3 linked regions of the Homo sapiens genome follow. The protein of the gene in region 2 purifies or fractionates together with the protein of the main gene of each other region. This does not show direct contact. Each region holds a gene or a part of one and is shown on either strand. Other genes may lie near its edges. The genes, in order: LNPEP, TMEM267 and ECPAS.

Region 1 (7,978 bases), about 54 Mb from region 2:
ACCTAAGAAGAGATACCACTTTATATATACATTAATCCAAAGAGTCCACACAATGTTTGTATTTAAATACTTTTATTTTCATTTCACAAAAAAAGCAACAGTGTTTGCAGCTACACATGCCTTTCAGTCAGTGCTGGTCATATGCAAAACAAGTTATCAGAAATATAAAGAAAAATAAGCCTTTTCCCTTTACAAGTGAAACAACACAATTTGCATATACAATATTATATATACATATTTTCAAAATGTTTCACAAAAGACAGATTATGATACAAATTTAGAATTCCACCCACAAGCTCAGACTCAAGGAATTGAAGATCTCTATAGGTGTTTAAATATAAAAATGTAATACCTTTACAAGTTTCCAAGTAACTACTTTCCAAAGTATTTGAAAGAGGCTATTCTTCACAGCAACATGGAACACTTGGCTTTAATCAAGACAGCTGTAAAACTAAGTTTTGTCTCAATGTGAGTTTGTTGATTAATGCAAATGCTCCAATTATGCCATAATTCTCATTTTATATACACATACATACACAGCGTATTATTGTACTGATGGTTTACACAGTCCAATTTCTGGAGCATTTCCTTCAGCTAAGCCATGACCTTTACTTCCTTTGAAGTATTTTAAATTAAGAACTGTTCAGAAATATCACTAATGACTACCATGACTAACTCCAAAAAGGTGCCCTTTTTTCTTTTATTTATGATCAAATGTAAATGTGTCATGAATAAACTTATTTTTTTCTATGGCAGCAGGTATAAGTAATAGCAAAGTATAGGCTACTTTTTCAACACTAGAATCTGAGAGTTTGATATACAGTATGTAACATTTCTTTGCAAATTTTCTAGGAGTTCTATCACTCAATGTTTCCAAAATAGTAATATGGCAAATCTTCAGCATGGAGTAGTAGTATCAGAAATGGGAAAACAAACAATGCTAAGAGGCCTGAAGGAAGGGAGGAGAGCAGAGAGGGAGGGAGGGAGGATGTGTGCCCATGCATTTTCCCTGATGCAGACAAATGTGGAGTTTTAACATTTACCATATGGTAGATGAGGAGACAGTGTGATATAAGAATGCTTAAAGCGAACATACAGGTCTGGATACATGATATGCACACAAAATACAAGGCTAATGAGGCAGCAATGGCTTAAATTTGTGAATGCCAGTGAAGAAAACACCTAACAGTATAGGCACTAAAGACAAAATGGAAAGCACACAATGGAGAACGGAGGAGAAAGATGCAGTCACACAAAAGACCTCTGGGTAAGAAAGGGCCAACTTGTCTTGCCACATGTGGGGGATGAAAGATAGAAAATTCCTTTTGGATTTAGTTTTGGGGCTCATGTTCTATTCATCAGAGCCATGTCAATAACTCGAAAGGGTCATTCCAAGACACAATTTCTACCAGGTACACAAGCTATGCAATTGATGGAATCATAATAGACTTCTATAGATGAATCAGAAGTCCAGGCCTCAAAAAGAAGCTACTCTTAACGGTTTGCAAATGCGTTCTAGACAGCACTCTTATTGGCTTATCAGCTTCGCCGGTTTACCAGTTACTAAAAGATATATGAGCAATGAAGTTTAAACACAGCTTTATTCAATATTGTCCTCTTGCCTTTCTAGAATTTACAAAAGCACAGGTCCCTTTTCACTACCTCATTCAATCTGAATCAACATAAGAAATGCTGGATCTAATTAGCTTTCACAACTCAACCATAGCTGAGTGTCTTCTCCTGTCTTATCTGCTGCACACCTGTTGCTATTAGTTACATTAATACACTGCTACACCTTCCAGCCAGATGGCAGGGATTTAGTAGGTCTTTATTTTTGTTAGGTATAGTCAGACCCCTTGCAAGGGACTAAGTGTTAAAGGAAAATAATGGCGGAAGAAAGAAGCAAATGATATATATGCATCTACACACTTGCATCCTTAATGGAATAGATCCTAGAGAATGAAATAAAATAACCACAAAATAACTACACTAGCTACTGCTAAGTGAGGAAATATGTAGGAAAAGAAGTGAGCTGTCATATTATGAAACTCGACTTTCATTAGGTCCCTACATAGCCATGCAAAAGACTACAAAATGAAATAAAGATATGAAAACATATTAAGAATATTCCCCTACCAAAAATAGAAATCTCTCTAAAACAGACAAGTAAGTAAACAACACACAACTATTCTACTTCCTATTGCCGACACAGGCAATAAGGAAAGGGGAGGATGGGAGATTTGTCATACACTGATCCTCGATTTTCATTAGGTACCTATATATCCATGCAAAGGACTAGGTACAAAACCAATAACATGAAACATTTATATACATCTTTAAAAAGTATAGACACTGTCCTTTCCCCCTGACTATTACCCACCCAAAGAACCCCTCCCCATAAAAAAAAATTAAACAATAAAAAACCCAAGATATGAAACTATTGCCCCTGTAGGCAATGAGGGAAGGGAAACAGGAGAGTTATCATACGTCTGGACCTCCATGTTTCATTATGTACATCCATGTCCCAGCAGAGGACTGGGTACCACATTATATAACACACAGAATGTAGCAAATATTTATATACATTAAAATGTGTGTGTATAGTATATAAATATGTGTGTTCTTGTGTGTATATACACACACATATACACTCAGACACCCCCAAAAGAAACCAAACATCTATTCTACCATTGCCCCCTAGGCAATGAGGGATGGGGAGTATGGGATATTTTTCATAGAGTCAATCTCAACTTTATTACTATTAAGTACCTAAGTGGTCATACAAAGGACCAGATTCAAAATGAAGTTAACATCAAAAAGGAGCAAAACATTTATATACATTAAAAAAATTATATATCTTGCCTTTTCCTCTCAACAATCCCACTCCTCATTAAAACCCTCAAAAGCAAAAAACCAAAACCCAAGCCCTGTAGTGCTCACATACTACTTGCTTGTGTATACAGGCTCTGAGGAAGGCAAAGAATATTTACCACACTCTCGGGTCTGGGTCCCTCATTACATTTGATTCCTACAACTCCAAACAAAAAACTGTGTTGAGAGTGAAAGAACAACAATAACAACAACTAGCAAACTTTTATATACATTAAAAAAAAGACAAACCCAGAAATTCCCCACCTCCCCTACCAAAAAAAAAACAAAAAAACAAAAAAACAAAATCCCTTAAATAACTACTCTACTGGCCATTGCCAAGACAGGCAATAAGGGAAGGGGAGAAGGGGAGATTTTTTCATAGAATGAACCTCAATTTTCATTACGTACCTAAGTATCCATGGAAAGGCCTTGGCACACAATGAAGTAACAGGAAAAAGGAGCAAGAACATTTATATACATTTCTAAAAGTGCACACCCCATCCTCCTGGAGATAGGCAGATGGATAAAAAAGAAAAACCATCTATACTACTCTATAATTATTGCCTACAGAGGCAATAAGGAAAGGGGAAAAGAGGAGATTTTCATACATCCGGACCTCCACGTTTCATTAGGTACCCGTAAGTCCAAGCAATGGACTGGGTACAGCATGAAATAATACAATATAGTTAATGAAAAGTATATATACATTTTTAAAAAGGATATATTCTGCCTTAGACCCCTCCCACCCCTCAAAACTTAAAAAAATCCAAACTACTTTAAAATTATTGCCCATATACATTAAAAGGGTAAAGGGAGAACAGATTGTTATACATCCATAACTCCATGGCTCATTAGGAACCTACACATCCAAGTGAAGGACCGGGTACCCAATGAAACACTATAATAAAGAAATAAAAATATGTACATACATATACAAAAGTATATACCCCAACACCCACCAAAGAATCCCTGAAGCTAATCAACTACTCTCTTAGACACCTGCCCACACAGACAATCTAAGGGAAGGGCAGAAGAGGAGAGCTGCTACAGGCTGAACCTCAATTTTCTTCATATATCCATGTAAAGGACAAGGTAAGAAAGGTAGTGACAGAAAAGTAGCAAAAACATTTATATACATGTTTAAAGTATATACTCTTACCTTGAAACCTCTCCTAGCAAAAAATTTTCTCTCTCCTAGCAAAAAATCTTCAATAAACCCAAACTACTCTTAAGTATTGCCCACATGGGCAATAAGGGAAAGGGAAAAGAGGAGACTGTTATACATCCGGAACTCCATGGTTCATTAGGTACCTTTCAGTCTGGGCACCCGATGAATTAATACAATGTAGTAGTAAAAACATGTATATACATTAAGTGCATTTTCCTACCTTCCCCGTCCCTCCCCCTCACCTCAAATACGCCACTTGACAACTACTCTGTTAGCTACTGCCCAGCAGTCAATAAGGGATGAGGAGAATGGGAGACTGTTATACATCGAGATCTCCACATTTCATTGGTACTTTCACATCCATGAGAAGGACACAGTGTGAACCAAATTAGTAATACAATGTAGTAGCAAGTTTATTTATATACATTAAGTACATACTCCACTCTCCCCCACACCCCAAAACAAAACAAACTACTCTATTAGCTATTGCCTAAATAGGCAGTAAGGAAAAGGGAAAAGAGATTTGTCATACTCTGAACCTCAATTTTCATTAAGTATATATGCATCCATACAAGGAAACAAGTATAAAATGAAGTATAAAAAGGTGGCACAATATTTATACACACTTGAAAGAATAATATACAACCCCAGCCCCAAGACTAGATCAAAACAACAGCAACTAGGACTACTCTGTCAGTTATTGTCCATGCGAACAATAAGGAGAAACGCAAAGGGGACATCTGTCATGCTTTTGGACCACCGCGTTTTATCTACACGTCCACAAAATGGATGAATGAAATACAAAATGAAATAACACAAAATAGCAAAAACATCTGTACACACTTTTAAAAGAATATAGCTTGCTCTCCTCTCAACATCACCACCTTCTTCCAAAGAAGGAAACCAAATAACTAGTCTGTAGCTACTGCCCATACAGGTAAAATGGGAAGGGTAGATGAAATTTTCATAGGATGATATATCACTCTTCATCAGGAAAAAAATATACAAAATGAAATAATATAAAAACTATCAAAAACATGTATGTACATTTTTAAAGTATATACTCCCAAAAAAACCACTGAAAAAAATCGATCAACTTTTCCATTAGCTGTCACCCACACAGGCAATAAGGTTAAGGGAGGAGATTTACCATACTTTTGAACCGCTACTTTTCAGGTAGTACTTAACTGGCAAAGCAGGGAATGGAGCACAAAATAAAAGAATGCAAAAACAAGCAAATATATATATAACTTAGTTTTTAAAAATACAAATGGGATGAAGGGGGAAGGAAGCTCTTTAAAAAGAGATTTAATTCCAATAAATACAAAAGTAACAAAGGCATAGGTGAGAAGAAAAGCTATGTCATATCCATGGCCTCAGTTTTTAGAGAGGCCTAAGTAACAAAATCCACATCTAGTTTTGCAGCCCAGGAAATGCTGTCCTTGGAGGTGGCTCATCTCAGATGTATTTGCCTTCCCTGAAGCCCCATGAAACATGGGGATTATGTGAATGTTTAGCAATCTGATGGCAGATTATGGTTCCAGGTACTTTGGTTTAAATAGACTCTTTTTAAAATCCATCTCAACAAACTGTCAGTAATCCAACAAAATCAACACTTAACTCTTTTTTTTTTGTTTTTTGTTTTTTGAGACAGTCTCGCTTTGTCACCCAGGCTGGAGTGCAGTGGCACAACCTTGGCTCACTGCAACCTCCGCCTCCTGGGTTCAAGTGATTCTCGTGCCTCCCAGGTAGCTGGGATTACAGGTGTGCACCACCATGCCCAGCTAATTTTTATATTTTTAGTAGAGATGGGGTTTTGCCATGTCGGCCAAACTGGTTTAGAACTCCTGGCCTCAAATGGTCTGCCCACCTTGGCATCCCAAAATGCTGGGATTACAGGCATAAGCCACCGCGCCCAGCCAACACTTAACTGATTTCTTATTTCCTAATAGAAAGGATTCTGTTTGGTATCCTATAATACTGATGCAGCTTGATTTGCTCTGTACACCCAGGAGTCTTCTGACAACTCTTGTGTTCCTGTGGTGGCTAATGTCCCACAAAATGGAAACACATATGGCAAGGAAAATTAAAGTAGAACCTGTGATAGTAAGAAAGTTCATGAATGCTGAAACAATGACAACAAAATTTCATTTAAAGAGACTTAAATAAAACAAGATGGAGGAAGGCCCAAGCTTATGGTGAAGCTGATACTACTTGCAGTTTAATATATCTAACCATTTTATATTAACAGAACAAACTGGACTTATCTAATTCCTACATTCATAACTTTTTTAGATCTCCAAAGCATAAACATTTCTTCCACAACTCAAGATTTCCAATTCTTTTTTAATAATCTAGTATGATGACCCTTTTATATTCAAGTAGATCTCTCTGCAATGAGAACACTTGTTCAACAAGTACTTGTGTCATGAATCTGTGTGCTTAAATAAAAGAAGCATACTGTGACTTCTGTGCTTCAGTCTGAGTTCTCAGAAATACACTGGCTAAGACAATGTTTTGAGAAGATAAAACTTTGAAAGCTACCATTATACCTATTACACTACAAGTTCTACCTCTCATTTAACCTTACATTCCTGACGTAGTTTTTAGAAGTCCTATATAGATGGGTTAGTTCAACATTAAAATTATGGAATTCTGTGGGAAAAACTGAGGCAAGGCCTACTAAAACTACAAATAATTAAGGTAAGGGCAACAACATCAAAAAAACTACAACTATTATGGATCTGGTATTATGGGAATGAACAGCCTTTGAGTAATAAAGATAGCAATGGATCATGAGTTATCTCTTTTTCAGGCCAAGTTTTGATAAAGTTTTACTCATAACAATACCCCCCACACTACACACACACACACACACACACACACACACACACACACACACACACACAGAGAGAGAGAGAGAGGGAGAGAAATGATATAATTCAAGACAAGATTTGCCATATGCAGAGTTAACTAACATACATTATAGGAGCGATGTCAAGAAGCACAGGTAAAACTGAAGAATCTTAAGTGATTTTGAGAAGTTACAAAATTTAAATTTTGTATCAAAGTGGAATTTAGTACCACATGGTAAAAAACCAGCAACGACAACAAAACTCTCAAAAGTTTAGTATTTTTCCCTCACTCTAAAAATATAAAAACACATTAACTTTCACTATCAACTAAATTATCATTCATTTAACCAAAGCACAAGAATAAAGACTTACAATCACTTCAGTTGAATAAGACATATTTAGATGATTCTGTGATTCTCAGGATATAATATTTTCTACTCTAAAACAGATAAATTTTAGAAAAGACTAAATTGGGGAAAACACACTAGGATTAAAGAAGACTATTTTTTTAGCTTACCAGCCTTTTAAATTTTATTATATAAAAATATTTTCATAAAATAAAATATAATTTTATTCACAATTCCATACATTCTAACTTGATACCTGCCGAATAAAAAAAGGGTGACCTTTCCCACTGTCTGACTCTGTGGAGTGTTTTAAGTGCTCACAAATGGGTAAATACCCTTTTTATGTACATAGAAACTGTTTTCAAACAAAATATAAAGTTCTCAAGAATTATTAGGAAGAAAGCTTTTCTCCTAAGAATCAAAGAAACACAACAATCTAGGTATAAGTCTGCATAGCTCAAAAATTCAAGTACAGTATTTCTCTTTCAGAAGGAGTAAAATGCCATACAGTTTCGGACATCCTCCCTCATTTTTCTTCTTTCCTTCTTTGACCACTCCTTTTATGTTAGTTTGGACACACAAAAAAAGAAAAACTACAATTTTTAACTAAACAAAAGCACTATTTTTGATAGTGAAAAAAATTCAAAGCCCACCATACTAAACACGAATTCAAGTTACTCCTATCCCACATTCTCTTTGTTCCTTTAAGGTACTATGGTGAACTTCAAATAATTGTT
Region 2 (7,978 bases):
TCAATCTTAAACAAAATGTTATGCTAACTCTACTTATAGCACAAAAGTTTGTCTTTAATTAGCAATTACTGATTCTTTACTGATTAAGTTTCTAAATAAGTGAATCAATTTCTGAGAAATACCTGGTACTTGACGCATAATAGGAAAAAGTGAATATTTCTCATTCATTCCACAAATATTTCCTGAATATCTACTAGGTAAGCCAGGCATTGTTCTAGGCCAGGGGTGAATGAAACAGAAAGTCCTTGCTCTATGAGTTTAGATTTCTTTCCTGAAATGTTTATAGATCATAAGCACGTAAAATATAGGCAAATCTTCTGACATTTAGAAAATATTATCTGAACCAACATTTTAAGTTTAGTTCATTTGTGAACTATATAACTGAACTCCTGAATGCCTCAGTGAAATTCCTCAATTTCTTCACAAGGGACTGTGTTCTAGCCAGTCCAGTTGAAATACATGCCTTTCGCTCCAAAAGGGACTGGGAGAATTAATCTGTTCAAGTCATTCCTTAGGACTGGGAATCATCTTAAAGCTATTCAACTTTTATGGAGTACTTAGGAGCTGCATACTAACTGTAAAACATAAAGAATAAGGGGGAAATGTTAAGTGTGCTCCTGAAGAAAGTACACTGATACAGAAAGAACTAGGACAGCCTTGAGAATCACCCCTGTTAATTTAAACCGGTTTGCTAATACTTTCTTCAAGACCTGGCTAAACGCATCCTCTGTAAGCCAGCACTGAACTCTTTAGGTACAGTTCGTGGGTCTTTGCTCTATGTGAATCCATAGCAGTTTGTGATGGCAAATAATTTGATTAGCAACATGTCTGTGTGCATCTTTAGGCAAGTACTAAGTGGTCAAAAAGGTTACATGAATGTGCTTTCCTATTTTAAGACAAATCCTCTCTAGTTCTAAATGATGCTGTAAAGATCAGCAAAATAGTGCTAAGGAAATTAAAGATCAGAAAAATTAAGCCTATGCTTTTTACCTTTAAAGACATGGATCCAGCTAGAAAAAAGTGGTCTACATCAATAACAGAGGCTAAAAATCCAGCTAAAATGATTTCTCCAAAGTCAGTCTTCTTCTTGATTCCAGTGACTACCGCCCATGACCACATGCCAATTACACAATGTACTGCATTATCTGAGAGAGCACGAAGCCAGTCATTTTGCTGAATTGTGGAAAACTGAAGAAGTCTGTCAGCTACGAGGCAAAATGCCCCCAGACCAAGGCTGGAAATAAGAGATTCAGTGCTACAAGTCTGCAGTAAAGCATGGGTCTTTTCAGTCTCGGATGCCATGACAAACAATATGTTAGTATAGACTAAAAGCCATCAGGAATGAACAGTCTATTCTTGTTTACATTTCCAGCACCCTAAAGGAGAAAGTAGAGAAAAATATGAATGAAGATTATGGACTACCATATAATATTTAAACAAAACAGTATCAGCAATAATTTCACAAACATAAAACCAAGATGTAAATACTGGCAACTTTTACATGTTATATATAATATGTCACATAGCCCAAGGAGAATAGATTTTTTTTTTTTTTTTTTTTTTAGGAAGAGCAGGGTACATGGTATGTATCAAGGAGAATTTCAGAAAGCCCACCAACTGCAATCTATTGCTTTAAGGTCATCAAATAGATCTATCTCCCAGCTGTGTGTAGTACATGGTGGTGAATATCCGTTGGGTTTGTGTACCCAACAACTACTTTCCATACTTCTGACAACAGTAATCCCTTCCTTTGGGAAAACTTTCTCACATTAAACTCCAGAGCTCACCAATTAGAGTTTTCCATTTCCCTAATAATGGTGACTAATCTAGTAATGAAAGTGGTCCAGGCTGAGCCAATCAGATTCCTTTCCAAAATTTGTCTTGTGGTAGAGAAAGTTCCTCTTCTTGGAGGCCATGGGCTCCACTACACGAAATAGCCTAGGAAAATAAAATCCCAGAGAGACACAAAGGAGAAAGGCTAATAGAATCATGATGACAGTGAGTACTTATGTCCAACGTCTAAAGGTTCTCAGAGCTACCCTAGATCTTGCAGCTCCCCCTCCACTTCAATGAGCTACCCCAACATTTTCCCATCAAATCCCCTTTACATTTCTGATGCCTTGAACCAAATAACCTTAATTGATATAAAAATGCAATCATAATTCTATGCTGAGTTCTCACATGGCACAGAATATTGACATTATTTACCTAGCTAGAAAATATTTGTCTACCTAAAGTGTGACACATGAAGTTTTTTCTTTTACATTGTTTTGTTTTAATCCTGAGACTAAAGAATAACTGATTTATTGATAATGACTCAACTTCTATTACACAATAAAAGCTATACATAGCTCATTATATATATTCTAAAACTGCAGAGGACCTAGAAGAATAAAACAATTTTGAAAAACAGAAACTAAGTTGGAGGACTACTTATGCCATCTTATTTTAAGTTTCATTATAAAGCTACAGTAGGCTGGGCACAGTGGCTTACACCTGTAATCCCAACACTTTAGGAGGCTGAGGCAGGAGGATTGCTTGAGGACAGGAGCTCGAGACCAACCTGGGCAACATAGTGAGACACTGTCTCTACAAATAATAAAAAATTAGCTAGGCGTGGTGGTGCATGCCTGTAGTCCCAGCTACTTGAGAGGCTGAGGTGGGAGGATCGCTTAAGCCCCGGAGGTTGAGGCTGCAGTGGGCTGTAATCGTGCTACTGCATGCCAGCCTGGGCAACACAGAGACCCTGTCTTAAAAAAAAAAAAGCTACAGTAATCAAAACAGTGTAGTATTGGTATAATGACAGACATACAGACTAACAAAACAGAATACAGAGTGGGATCAGAAATAGAACCAAACATACCTAGTCAATTTTATTTATTTATGTATTTATTTTTTGAGATGGAGTCTCACTCTGTCACCCAGGCTGGAGTGCAGTGGTGTGATCTTGGCTCGCTGCAACCTCTGCCTCCTGGGTTCAAGCAATTCTCCTGCCTCAGCCTCTCAAGTAGCTGGGATTACAGGTGCCCGCCACCATGCCTGGCTAATTTTTTTGTTTGTATTTTTAGTAGAGATGGGTTTCACCATGTTGGCCAGGCTGGTTTCGAACTTCTGACCTCAAGTGATCCACCCACCTCAGCCTCCCAAAGAGCTGGGATAATAGGCGTGAGCCATCGTGCCCAGCCAATTTTTTTTTATTTAAGACAGAGTTTTACTGGAGTGTAGTGGCACAGTTATGGCTCACTACACCCTTTACCTCCCACGTTTAAGAAGTTCTCCTACCTCAGTCTCTTGAGTAGCTGGAGCCACAGATGTGTGTCACCATGCCTTTTTTTTTTTTCAAAGAGACAAGGTCTCCCTGTCTCTAGAGAGGCCTCGAACTCCTAGCTGGTCTCGAACTCCTGGCCTCAAGTGATCCTTGGCTTCCCAAAGTGCTGAGATTACAGGCATGAGCCATCATGCCCAGCCTGGTCAATTAATTTTTGATAAAGGTGCAAAGATAAATCAATGGAGGAAGAATATTCTTTTCAACAAATGGTGTGAGAACAAATGGATATCCATATGCAAAAATCATAAACCTGAATCTATATCTTACTCCATATACAAAAATTATCTCAAAATGAATCACAAACCTAAATGTAAATAAAACATAAAAAGATAAAATTTCTGGAAAAAAACATAAAGTATTTTTGTGTCCTTGGGTCACGCAAAGAGTTATTAGATAAAATACCAAAAGCTTGATCCATTAAAAAATTGGTAAGTTGAACTTATCAAAATTAAAAGCTTCTGATCTTTGAAAGACAATGTTAAGAGAAAGAAAAAACAATTTTTAAATCTTATATCTGATAAAGGACTTACATCCAGAATATATAAAGAACTCTCAAAACAGAGTAATAGGAAAACAAACCAATACAAAAATGGACAAAAGATGTGAAAATGGGTACCTACCATTGATGATATTCAGATAGCCAATAAGTATAAGAAATATGTTCATCACCATTAATTATTAGGGAAATGCAAATTTTAAAAATTAGATATCACACACCTGTTAAATGGCTAAAATTAAAGACTGACAATCCCAGATGTTGACAAAGATGTGGAGCAACCAGAACTCATACGCTGCTGGTCGGAATAAAAAACAGTATGACTATTTTGGAAAAACAGTTTTCCAATTTCTCAGAAAGTTAAACGTACTCTTACCATATAACCCAGTCATTCCACTTCTAGGTATTTTCCCAAAAGCTTATGTGTACACAAAGGCTTACACATGAATGTTCATAGCAGCTTTATCTGAATTTGTTCCAAGTTGGAAACAACTCAAATGTCCACAAACATGTGAATAAACAAAAGGTGGAATAAAAAGGAACAAACATGTGATACACATAAAAACATGAATGAATCTTGAAATGATTATAGTAAGTGAAAGAAGTCAAACAAACAAAAATTACACAGTTAAAACCCATAGAACTGTGCGACATAAAGGATGAACCCTAATATAAAGTATGGACTTTAGTCAAAAATAACATATCAATATTGGTTCCCTACTTGTATCAAATATACCACACTATTGCAAATATTAATAATGGGGAAAATGTATGCAGGGCAAAGGGCATCTATAAGAATTCTCTATAATATTGGCTCAATTTTTCTGTAAACCTAAAACTACTATTTAGGTTTATGTATTAGTCTGTTATTGCATGGAACTACCTGAAACTGGGTAATTTACAATGAAAAGAAGCTTAATTGGCTTACAGTTCTGCAGGCTGTACAGGAAGCATGGCTGAGGAAACCTCAGGAAACTTACAATCATGGTGGAAGGTAAAGAGGAAGGAGTCACGTTTTACATGGCCAGAGTAGAAGACTAAAGTGGAAGGTGCTACACACTTTAAACAGCCAGATCTCGTGAGAACGAACTCACTATCATGAGAACACCTAGGGGGATATCTGCCCCCATGAACCAGTCACCTCCCACCAGGCTCCTCCTCCAACACTGGGGATTACAATTTGACATGAGATTTGGGTGAGGACACAAATCCAAACCATATCAGTTTATAAAGTCTATTAATTAGAAAAACTTACAAAAACTTAAAAATAAAGTCAATTTATTTTAAAAAATTAAATAAATGAACCGCCAACAAATATTATAAATTTAAGTAATAGATGTACTGTAGTTCATTATATTTTTCTCTATTTTTCTGTATGTTTGAAATTTTCATTTAGAAATGTTTTTATTAAATTTATTTATTTTGAGGACAGGGTCTCACTGTGTTGCCCACACTGGAGTGCAGTGGCTTGATCTTGGCTCACTGCAACCTTGACTTCCTAGTCTCAGGTGATCCTCCCACCTCACCTCCTGAGTAGCTGGGACTACAGGCATGAGCCATCATGCCTGGCTATATGTTTCCATTTCTATTTATTTAATTTAAAAAATTCTTTCTTTCCTTAATTTTTGAGACAGGGTCTTGCTCTGTTGTCCAGGCTGGAGTGCAGTGGTGTGAATATGGCTCACTGCAGCCTCTATGTCCTGGGCTCATGAGATCCCCCTGCCTCAGCCTCCTGAGTAGCTGGAATCACAGTCACAGGCCACCATGCCTGGCTAATTTTTAAATTTTTTTGTAGAGATGGAATTTCACCATGTTGCCCAGGCTGGTCTGCAGCTCCTGGCCTCAAGCAATCTTCCCACCTCAGCCTCCCAAAGTGCTGGGATTACAGGCGTGAGCCACTGAACCTGGCCTAGAAATATGTTTTTAAAAAGAGTGCATAGTATAATTCTACTTATTTAAAAGTCTACAAAATACAAACTAATTTATAGTGACAGAAAGCAGATCCATGGTTTCCTGAAGACAGTAGAGGCAGGAATGATTAAAAAGGAGAATAAAGAAACTTTGGTAAGGGACGCATATGTTCATTATCTTGACTGTGGTGATAGTTCCATGGTTCACAGTTTCATACATATGTCAAAACGTATCAAACTGTATATTTTAAACATATACAGTTAATTACATGTCAATTATACTCCAACAAAGATGTTAAAAAGTTAGGAAGGTACACTTCATTGATTATAAAACAGCAGGCTTTTGTAAAAAAGGAGAAATATGAAAACAAGAAACTATGGAAATGAAAAAGTTGATTACCCAAATAAAAACTCAATGCAAAGTCTACTATGCACTGAAGGAATGCACAGTGGCGTGAATCTTTCAAACATCAAAATTAGTAAATGAGAACATTTGCAAATAATTTTTCCAAAGCTTAAGGGGAAAATATAAGACAAAGAGTTGGGCATTGAAAAAAAATTTCCAAAAATAAAGAGAAAACCTTTAGAGTTTCTATGTCAAAAAAAAAAAATTATCTTCCAAAGAAAGAGAATGTGATTATCATCAACCCTAAATGTCAGAATACTGTGAGGTAACATTTACAGAACTCTGAGAGAAAAAGATCATAGACTGTAGCATTCTAAGCATAGTTAAATTATGGCACCTATGTGGCAACTGTGAATTTTAAAAGTTTTGCCTTAGAAATTATACACCCATGTATGATTTTGGGGGGTAGGGGAAACTGAGCAGTAGAACTTCTCAATCTCTAGCAGGAAGGGAGACAAATAAAGAAAATTTGATCAATACAGCAAGACAGAAAAGAAAAAAAAGAAAACCTTACTTCCCTCCAGCTCACCCCCACTCTGCAAAAAGCAATAGGGACCAAATAAAATACAAATACCACAACAAATGTGAATGTGTTAAATTTCTCTATAAAGAGACAAACATAATCAGATTGGGGCAAAAGAAAACATCACTAAATTATTGTTCAAAACAAAACACCTCAAACAAAAAGTCTTCACAATATAGAAAATAAAGAGATGAGAAAATATATGTCTAAGAAATACAAACAAAATTAAGTAGCAATGGTAATATTAACTGCAAACACAGAATTCAAGGTAAAAATGATTAATTAGAACTGAAAAGGATAAAATATTCACATCACAGTAAAGTTCTATGGGGTAAGAGGATGCTTACATGTCAAACAACAGCAGCAAAAAATTAAGTGGTCAATAAAAGGCATAATCTGAATAATATAATTTATAAATTTTATTTCATACTCAGGTATACAACTTCATATGCTATGAAGCAGTGGTCCCAGTCCTTTTTGGCACCAGGGACTGGTTTTGTGGAAGACAATTTTTCCATGGACTGTGGAGGGGGATGGTTTTGCGATGATTCAAGTGCATTACATTTATTGTGTACTTTATTTCTATTATTATTACATTGTAATATATAATTAAATAATTACACAACTCAACATAATGTAGAATCAGTGGGAGCCCTTAGCTTGTTTTCCTGCATCTAGAGAGTTCCATCTTAGGATGGTGGGAGACAGTGACAGATCATCAGGCATTAGATTCTCATAAGAAGCACGTGACCTAGAACTCGCATGTGCAGTTCACAATAGGTTCACTCTCCAATGAGAAGCTAACGCTGCCACTGATCTGAAAGGAGGTGGAGCTCAGGCAGTAATGTCAGTGATGGAGAGTGGCTGTAAACACAGATGAAGCTTCACTTGCTAGCCTGCCGTTCACCTCCTGCTTTGCGGCCTGGATCCTAATGGGCCATGAACCTGTACTGGTCCATGGCCTGGGGGTGGGGACTCCTGCTATAAACAGTACACATTCTTTTCAAATGTTCACGGAACCCCCATAAAAGTTAACCACATATTTGAATTAGGGAGGCAGAGCAAAATAGCAGAATAGAAGCCTCCACCAATCATCCCCAAACACAAGTTAACAACTATCTACACAGAAAAAAAATACCTTCATAAGAACCAAAAATCAGGTGAGACTCATAGTACCTGGTTTTAACTTCACACCACTGAAAGAGGCACAGAAGGGATTAAAAAAAAAACAAAACACAGAAAAGCAAAAAACAGTCCTGAATCACTAAGGCCACCCCTCCCCTACACCCCAGAAGTGGCAGAGTGGGGCAGAGAG
Region 3 (8,369 bases), on a different chromosome or scaffold from region 2:
TATTTATGTAGAATTTTGGCTTGTCTGGAACTCTGGAGGTCCAAATTGAATTCAATTCCAAATTGAATCACTTGGGATAATTTAATTTTCTAGATAGTTTAGAATTAATCCTTTTAGGCACCCAAAATTTCTTATTACAATCGTTTTAGATGAAAAGCTTACTAAAATATGCTCCGTACTTGGTTTTTTGATGCTAATATACTTGACATAATTTTACTACATTTTTTTTCCTTTTTTGTAGAGACAGGGGCTATATTTCCCTAGGCTGGTCTTGAACTCCTGGCCTCAAGCCATTCTCCTGCTTCAGCCTCTTAAAATACTGGTATTACAGGTGTGAGCCATCGTGCCTGGCCGTAATTTTACTGTTTTATAAGGTTAGGATTAGCACCATGAATACCATCTATTCAAGAGAAATGACTCAGTGCATTTCGTACTTTATAAATACCCCCAGAATTTAATTTTTTAAATTTATTTAATTATTTAGACTGAGTTTCACTCTTGTCGCCCAGACTGTAGTGCAATGGCGCAATCTCGGCTCACTGCAACCTCCACCTTCCGGGTTCAAGCAATTCTCCTGCCTCAGCCTCTTGAGTAGCTGGGATTACAGGTGCGTGCCACCATGCCCAGCTAATTTTTTGTATTTTTAGTAGAGACGGGGTTTCTCCATGTTGGCCAGGCTGGTCCCGAACTCTTGACCTTAGATGGTCCACCTGCTTTGGCCTCCCAAAGTGCTAGGATTACAGGCGTGAGCCACCGCACCCGACCCAGAATTTACATTTTGAGTTCTTATATGTTCATTTATTTATGATTTTATTGTACAGATGGGGTCTTGCTATGCTGCCCTGGCTGGTCTCGAACTCCTGGCTTCAAGTTATCCTTCCACCTCACCCTCCTGAGTAGCTGGGATTACAGGTGTGAGCCTAGCTGCTGTTTCTTCTTTTTTTTCTTTTCTTCTCTTCTCTTCTCTTCTCTTTTCTCCTTCCTTCCTTCCTTTCTTTTTTGAGACAGGGTCTCACTCTGTTGCCCAGGTTGGAGTACAGTGGTGCCATCTCTGCTCATGGCAACCTCTGCTTCCCAGGCTCATGCAATCCTCCCATCTCAGCCTCTCCAGTACTGGGACCACAGGCGTGCACCACCACACCTGGTTAACTTTTTGATTTTTTGTAGGGACCATGTCTTGCTAGATTGCCCAGGCTGGTCTTGAATTCCTGGCCTCCAAGGATCCTCCTGCCTCACAGCCTTCCAAAGTCCTGGGATTACAGATGTGAGCCATTGTGCCTGGCCCAGCCTAGCTTAATAATTTGTATGCTTCTTTGTTTTTAGGTGTCTGTTAGCACTTGTCATCCATGTATCTGCCCAGAAGAAGAATGCTTTCAAATATTTTGCTTTAACGCTGGAAACAAGATTTTTAAAAATCTTGTTAGAACTGTATATGTGTTTGATGTGAAGACAGCCTACATGAGAGGAGAGGGGACAGGTTTTTAGTTCTTGGATTCTATGATATCCTATTTTGGTTTCTCAGTAGCCTCTTCTCTGGCTCCTGTTTTCCTCCTCACCCCAATTCCTTCTTGCCTCTGTTTTTGACAGCTGAAGTGAATTCTAGACAGGAACTATCTCAAGGCTGCTGTTATTCAAAACCTAAGTGTTTCATATGAACATGAAGCTATTTAGTGGGAAAAATGAACTACAAGTAGTTTGATGGAAGAAGCAAGTATAAAAAAGCTTAGAGCTTTACACAGTAGTGATCAGAAGTAGCACTGTAAGTTGCTATAAACTACTGTATGTAATGAGACTTTAAGATCTTTTTTTGCCTAACAATTCCACATCTACATCTAGAAATATGTGATTACATAAAGATATGTATAAGAATGTTTTACAGTAGTATTGTTTAGTAAAAAACTGTAAACAACCTAACAGCTCATCAATAGGGAAATGGTTAAATACATTTTGTTGGTACTTATCATGCAGCCATTTAAAAAAAAAATGAGGCCAGGCACAGTGGCTCACGCCTGTAATCCCAACACTTTGGGAGGCCAAGGCAGGTGGATCATTTGAGGTCAGGAGTTTGAGACCAGCCTGGCCAACATGGTGAAACTCCATCTCTACTAAAAATACAAAAATTAGCTGGGCGTGGTGGTACATGCCTGTAATCCCAGCTACTCAGGAGGGTGAGGCAGGAGAATCGCTTGAACCCGGGAGGCGGAGGTTGCAGTGAACTGAGATCGTGCCACTGCACTCCAGCCTGGGGGACAGAGCGAGACTCCCTCTCAAAAAAAAAAAAAAAAAAAAGAGGTAGTTCTGTACATACTGATCCTAGTGATTAAGCAAGCTGACTCTGAATCCACACTGCCCAGGTTCAAATCCCAGCTCCACCACTTACTTTCCAGTTTGTGGCACATTAGATGTGTTCCTCAACCATCCAGTGCCATAAAAATCCCTATTTCATAAGATTGTTGTGGGGGTTAGATGAATTCATCCAAGTAAAACACTAGAATGGTGTCTGGCATAATTATTATTCCATTAGCCATTATTATCATTACTGATATGAAAGGACACCTGTAATACATTATTTGGTGAAAAGATAACGTTACATAATATGGGAAGTAGAGTTCCATTTTTGTCAAAACTAACAAAAATCTGTGTACACACATTCATGTGATTTGTACACGCAGAGAACCTGGAATTTCTTCATAGGAGGAACTAAGGATTTGTTAACTAGTCTTGCCTGGAGGTTAAAATTGCCTAACGGCCAGGCATGGTGGCTCACACCTGTAATCCCAGCACTTTGGGAGGCCGAGGTGGGTGGATCACCTGAGGTCAGGAGTTGGAGACCAGCCTGGCCAACATGGAGAAACCCCGTCTTTACTGAAAACACAAAATTAGCCGGACGTGGTGACGCATGCCTATAATCCCAGCTACTCGGGAGGCTGAGGCAGGGGAATCGCTTGAACCCAGGAGGCGGAGGTTGCGGTGAGCCGAGATCGCGCCATTGCACTCCAGCCTGGGCAACAAGAGCGAAACTCCGTTTCAAAAAATAAAATAAAATAAATAAATAAATGAATAAAAATAAAATAAAATAACAAACCCATTGTTTTTTACTCAGATTCTGTATTTATCTGGGGTGGCTTTGGAAGGATCCATTTGAAATTATGGGAAGTCAAATTTCCCCAAACCAGTCTTTGGTGCAGCTACTTTCTATAGTCACGGAAACAGTAAGGAAAGGTTGAATGCACCAAACTGTTAATAGGGATTATTTATGGGCATGAGTGGGATGAGGGGGGATGGTGGGTATGCAGTTGGGAGAAGACCTGTATACACCTCTCTATTGTTTGTAAGTAGTTCATTGTGTATTTATTTTGGAGGCAACATCAAATAAAAGAGGAGCATACATGAAAAAAGGGGTTGGTTAACTTAGTGTAGTATGAAGTTACAAACAAAAAAGGGTGATGGTAGTGCAGTGTTTTGAATTAACATGGAACAATGTGTGTGAAGGAATAATTGATCCAGAACTTTATTGTAGAAACCTGTCCCCATCAAAGCCATACATGGGGCTGTATATATATGTCCAGAGAAAAGGTCTTCTGCACACTTAACTGTAACTGTTAGTCATAATTTCTCTGCAGAGTGGGATGGTGGGGCTAGGAGGAAGGACTTTCACTTTTAATTTTATGATACTCCAAATCATTTGCATTTTTTTTTTACAAAAATTATGTATAATTTTTCTTTTTTTTTTCTTTTTGAGACGGAGTCTCGCTCTGTCCCCCAGGCTGGAGTGCAGTGGTGCGATCTCGGCTCACTGCAAGCTCCGCCTCCCGGGTTCAAGCGATTCTCCTACCTCAGCCTCCCGAGTAGTTGGGATTACAGGCGCGCGCCTCCACGCCCAGCTAATTTTTGTATTTTTTAATTAGAGACAGGGTTTCACCATGTTGGCCAGGCTGGTCTCGAACTCCTGACCTCGTGATCCACCCGCCTAAGCCTCCGAAAGAGCTGGGATTACAGGCGTGAGCCACCGCGCCCGGCCCAAGATCATGTATAATTTCTATAACAAAAACAATAAAGGAAATAAAAATGTCTTCAGTGTTGTACCTTGTACTTGGCCTATGTTACAACAGGAATGACATATATTCCATTTTTAAGACATTACTTAGGGCTTTATAGATTTCTGCTTTAAGGAATAAATGCAATTTCAATCTATTTAAGACTTGATTTCTTCTTATATAAAAAAAGTATCTGATCTTGTATCTAATTTGTTATGACAGTACCATCACTTAAAGTACAGCAATTATGCAACCCCTGAATTTGAATTTCATTTTGCAAGTGTACATGACCTCACGGACAAAGCGAAGGCAGAAAGTTAAAATCAGCATATCGAAAATAAATCACTCTAGTTACCGAAAAGAACATAGGGTATCTGAACAAAATCTCAGAGCTCACATAGGCATAGATACTTCCATGTGAACTTTAGGAATCTTGCCTTATCTAACTTTTGCAGGGCTGAGTGGACCCCCTGCTCCCGCTAGCCGTTTTGGGAGCACCAGCCACCTCCACACCAGAACTGGGCTGTCGGGGGCCGCTGCGGCGCAGGGGCTCGTCCGGGACTGAGTCAGCGCCGGGGCCGAGAAGTTCGGCGGGAGGCGCAGGGCGGGGCTTCCTCCCGCCGACTCCGAGCCCGGCTCTACTTTTCTGAGTCCACGTCTCTTCCTTTGGACAGGCGTGTTTCCCCAGGTCGGGCCCAGCCAACGTGACAGCCGCAGACCTCGGAAAAGGGCGCTCCGGCCCCGCCTCGAGGATTTCCCCCGGCCGCTAGGGCAGCCCGGGCCCGCTCGGCCCAGCCCCTCACGGACTGCGGCGCGCGGCTCCCCGGGGCCCGGCCCGCCGAACGCCTCGCTCTACAGCCCTCACCTCGCGGCGCCGAGCGCAGCGTCCGCGGCATGGAGACCGGCTCCGACTCAGGTCAGAGGCCCGCCCCCGGGCCGCGGGGGACTGGCCCTGCGCGCGCGGCGGCGCGGTTAGGCCGGGCCGCCCGCACAGGCCGCCGCGTGTCGAGTCCGCGCGGGGAGCGCACGCGGGGCGGGCGGCGACAGGTGGGCAGGACGAGCCGCGAGCGAGCGAGGGCGGGCGGGCGCGCGAGGGGCCCGGCGGGGGGGCCGCTGGGAGGATGGCTCAGCTCTTTCTAAATATAAAACCGGCGTGAGTTGGGCGAGCGCGGCGCGGAGTCGCAGAGCCGCCGCGCGGGCCTGGCGCACGGGGATTCGGCCGCACAGACGGCGGCGGCGGCAGCGGCAGCGGCTCCGCAGAGGCGCGAGGCTGCGGGAGCGCCCGAGTCGCGAGCTCGCGGGGGCAGCGAAGGGCGACGCTCGCGACGCGGAGGACGCAGGCGGCGGCGGCGGGCGGGCCTCGGGGCACAGCGCGGTCCGCGCCGAGTGAACGGAGGCGGCTCGCGGCCCCTGCCGCACCGCGAGCCGCGAGCCCCCCGGCCGCGCCCTGCCCCCCCAGCCCCTCCCTCGTTCCCTCCCCGGCGCAACATGGCTGCGGCCGCCGCCTCCGCCTCCCAGGATGAGCTGAGTAAGTGCCGCGGCCGAACCTGCGGCCGCGAGCCGGAACGGGCGCCGCGCGGTGCCGGGGGCCGGCGGCCGCATGAGGGCTGGGGCGCCAGGCCCGGTGGGCGGGCGGCGGCCGCGGCGTACGGGGAGCTGGGGAGCCCGGGCCTGGCGGACGGGCGGGGCGCGGACCGTCGCCGCTGGCGTTTGTAGGCCTCAGGTTTGCACCGTCACGTTGCGAAATTGAAACCGGAGCCCCGGGCGGAGCCACCTCTGCCCGCGATCCGCCCTGGCCCGGGGTCGGGGGAGCCCAGCCCCCTGCCCACTGAGCCTCGGCTGGCGGGAGGGCCGGAGCCCCGGGGTGACGGGCAGTGTCCGCCCGTCCCGTCTGACCCCGCCTGGCCCCGGGTCCCCGACGGCTGGTTGAGTTATAGAAATGGAGCTTTCGGGAAGGGGGAGAAGGTGCCTTTTTGTGACACTCTAGTAATCAGCCGAAAGGTCACGAATAGGCGGTGACCCTCAGATGGAGCAGGGAGGGCGGAGAGGGTCGCCGGTCGAACCGCAGGAGAAACCACGGGGTGACAGCGCTTTCAGAAAGGAGAGTTAGTGCCCCCTCGATCGTACGCGGTGCAGCCTTCCCGGGGACGGCGGTCCCTGTCTGGGGAGAGCGGTGGTCACCCTGAATCCCAGGCCGCCCCGCCCGCCGCCGGGGTTCGCCTCAATGCTTTGTGGGAAGTGTAGTTCCGGGGCGCCGCGGACCCACGCTGGGGTCATAAATACCGAAGTTTCATAGGACATAGGACATGTGAGATAATTTCTGATTGCGTTTTGAGTGTTCTCCCCCCCAAGGGTTTTCTTTCTTTCCCTTTTTTTTTTTCTCCCAATGCTGCCCTTCAGTTTATGGCAAAAACAAGAAAGGTGTTATTTGAAGATGATGTGGGTTTTAAATGGAATAAAGCATGGGTGAGGTGTTGCAAGCTTTATGAAGCTTACGTTGTTAAAGCCGCTTCTGAATTTCCATATGAAAGTAGTTATACACGTAATGTATGTTTTTCTGGTGCTTGTCAGTTTAAAGCCACTTTTATATACATGATCTCACTTTTGCCCTCATAGCAACCTTGTGAGGCAGATAGGTAGGAATTATCCTTGTTTTAAAGAGGAGGCAGGTTTGGAGAGATTAAGTTCCTTGCTGCTTTGACACAGAACTGGTGGAGCAGGAGTACTGTTTGCTTTTTTTGAAGCTGAAGTAAACACTTGGTGTGATCCTGAGCAGATTGGAGAGTCGGAGGAGACAAGGTCTCATGGTGCGATTAGAGAGAGAAGCGGGCTACAGATTGCTCTTCTGTCGGTTCCACGTGGAAGCACCACCAGGCCTTCTGAGATCAGTTCCATGTTTTGTTTTAATTGGAAGAAAAGTACACATACCATAAAATTTCCCGTCCTAGCCATTTTTTAAGTGTACAGTTCAGTGGGATTGAGTACATTCACACTGTTGTGTAATCATCACCACCATCCATTTCCAGAACTCTTCGTCTTGTAAAACGGAAACTTGATACCCATTAAACAACAAATCCTCATTCCCTCCTCCCTTCGGCCCCTGGCGACCATCATTGTACTTTCTGTCCCTGTGATTTTGAGTATTCTTCCTACCTCGTGTGAATGGAATCATACAGAATTTGTGACTGGTTTTATCTTTATTTAGCATAATGTCCTCAAGGTTCATCCATGTTGTTGCGTGTGTCAGAATTTCTTTTCCTTTTAAAGGTTGAATGATATTCCCTTGTATGTATATATCACATTTCCTTGTCCATCTATCTGTCTATGGACACTTGGGTTGCTTCCACATTTTAGCTATTGGGAATAATGCTGTTGTGAACATGGGTGTACAGATACCCCTTTGAGACCTTGCTTTCAGTTCTTTTGGGTACATACCCAGAAATGTAATTGCTGGATCATGTGATAGTTCTAGTTTTAAATTTTTAAGGAACCACTGTACTGTTTTCTTTTTTCTTTTTTTTTTCTTGAGACCAAGTCTTGCTCTGTCGCCCAGACTGGAGTGCAGTGGCGCGATCTCCGCTCACTGTAAGCTCCGCCTCCCAGGTTCACGCCATTCTTATGCCTCAGCCCTCCGAGTAGCTGGGACTGCAGGCGCCCGCCACCACGCCCGGCTAATTTTTTGTATTTTTAGTAGAGACGGGGTTTCACTGTGTTAGCCAAGATGGTCTTGATCTCCTGACCTTGTGATCTGCTGTGATCCACCCGCCTCGGCCTCCCAAAGTGCTGGGATTACAGGCGTGAGCCACCGCGCCCGGCCCCCACTGTACTGTTTTTGACAGTGGTTGTACCATTTTACATTACCACCAACAATACACAGAGTTCTAATTTCTCTATATCCTGGCCGACACTTATCTATATTGTCAGTAGTAACCATCCTGTTGGGTGTGAGGTGGTCTGATTTTTTTTCAATTGCTATGCTGTATGACATCTGAGTTCCTGTTGTAGAACCAAACACATTAAAGTCTGAATTGATAGCAGGAATGGGAACAAAACTAGAGGAAGAATTGGATATTCTGAAGTGGCTGAAGTATTTGTGTCTATGCAGTGTGCTTCCATACATTCAGGTACTGGTTAAGATGCTGATAGTTAAGGGATTTCCTGGCTCTAGTACCTAATGGAAAGTTAGGAACAAATAATTCCAATCCTTGCCTTCTTCTTGTTTTGTTCAGTTAAATTGTCAGTCATCAGCCACAGATATCGGTGGACTTGGTTTCTGTATTTCTTCAGGAGAGACTGAATACGTTGCAGTTGATACCTTAGAATAATTTAACT

What was found.
Region 1: the proteins of TMEM267 (region 2) and LNPEP purify together in Homo sapiens (affinity purification with mass spectrometry; 2 studies listed by BioGRID and IntAct, with this or other methods). This does not show direct contact.
Region 3: the proteins of TMEM267 (region 2) and ECPAS purify together in Homo sapiens (affinity purification with mass spectrometry; 2 studies listed by BioGRID and IntAct, with this or other methods). This does not show direct contact.

What each region holds. Positions count from the first base shown.
Region 1 is NC_000005.10:97,029,591-97,037,568, reverse strand, and holds the end of LNPEP (leucyl-cystinyl aminopeptidase), read right to left. Parts: 3' UTR 56-7,978; downstream 1-55. UniProt on the Homo sapiens protein: Release of an N-terminal amino acid, cleaves before cysteine, leucine as well as other amino acids. Degrades peptide hormones such as oxytocin, vasopressin and angiotensin III, and plays a role in maintaining homeostasis during pregnancy.
Region 2 is NC_000005.10:43,452,668-43,460,645, forward strand, and holds part of TMEM267 (transmembrane protein 267), read right to left. Parts: intron 1,939-7,978; exon of another isoform or gene 1,788-1,938; intron 1,377-1,787; 5' UTR 1,303-1,376; coding exon 991-1,302; intron 1-990.
Region 3 is NC_000009.12:111,480,700-111,489,068, reverse strand, and holds the start of ECPAS (proteasome adapter and scaffold protein ECM29), read left to right. Parts: upstream 1-4,685; 5' UTR 4,686-4,931; coding exon of another isoform or gene 4,932-4,953; intron 4,954-5,011; exon of another isoform or gene 5,012-5,084; intron 5,085-5,506; exon of another isoform or gene 5,507-5,525; coding exon of another isoform or gene 5,526-5,565; intron 5,566-5,667; exon of another isoform or gene 5,668-5,760; intron 5,761-8,369. UniProt on the Homo sapiens protein: Adapter/scaffolding protein that binds to the 26S proteasome, motor proteins and other compartment specific proteins. May couple the proteasome to different compartments including endosome, endoplasmic reticulum and centrosome.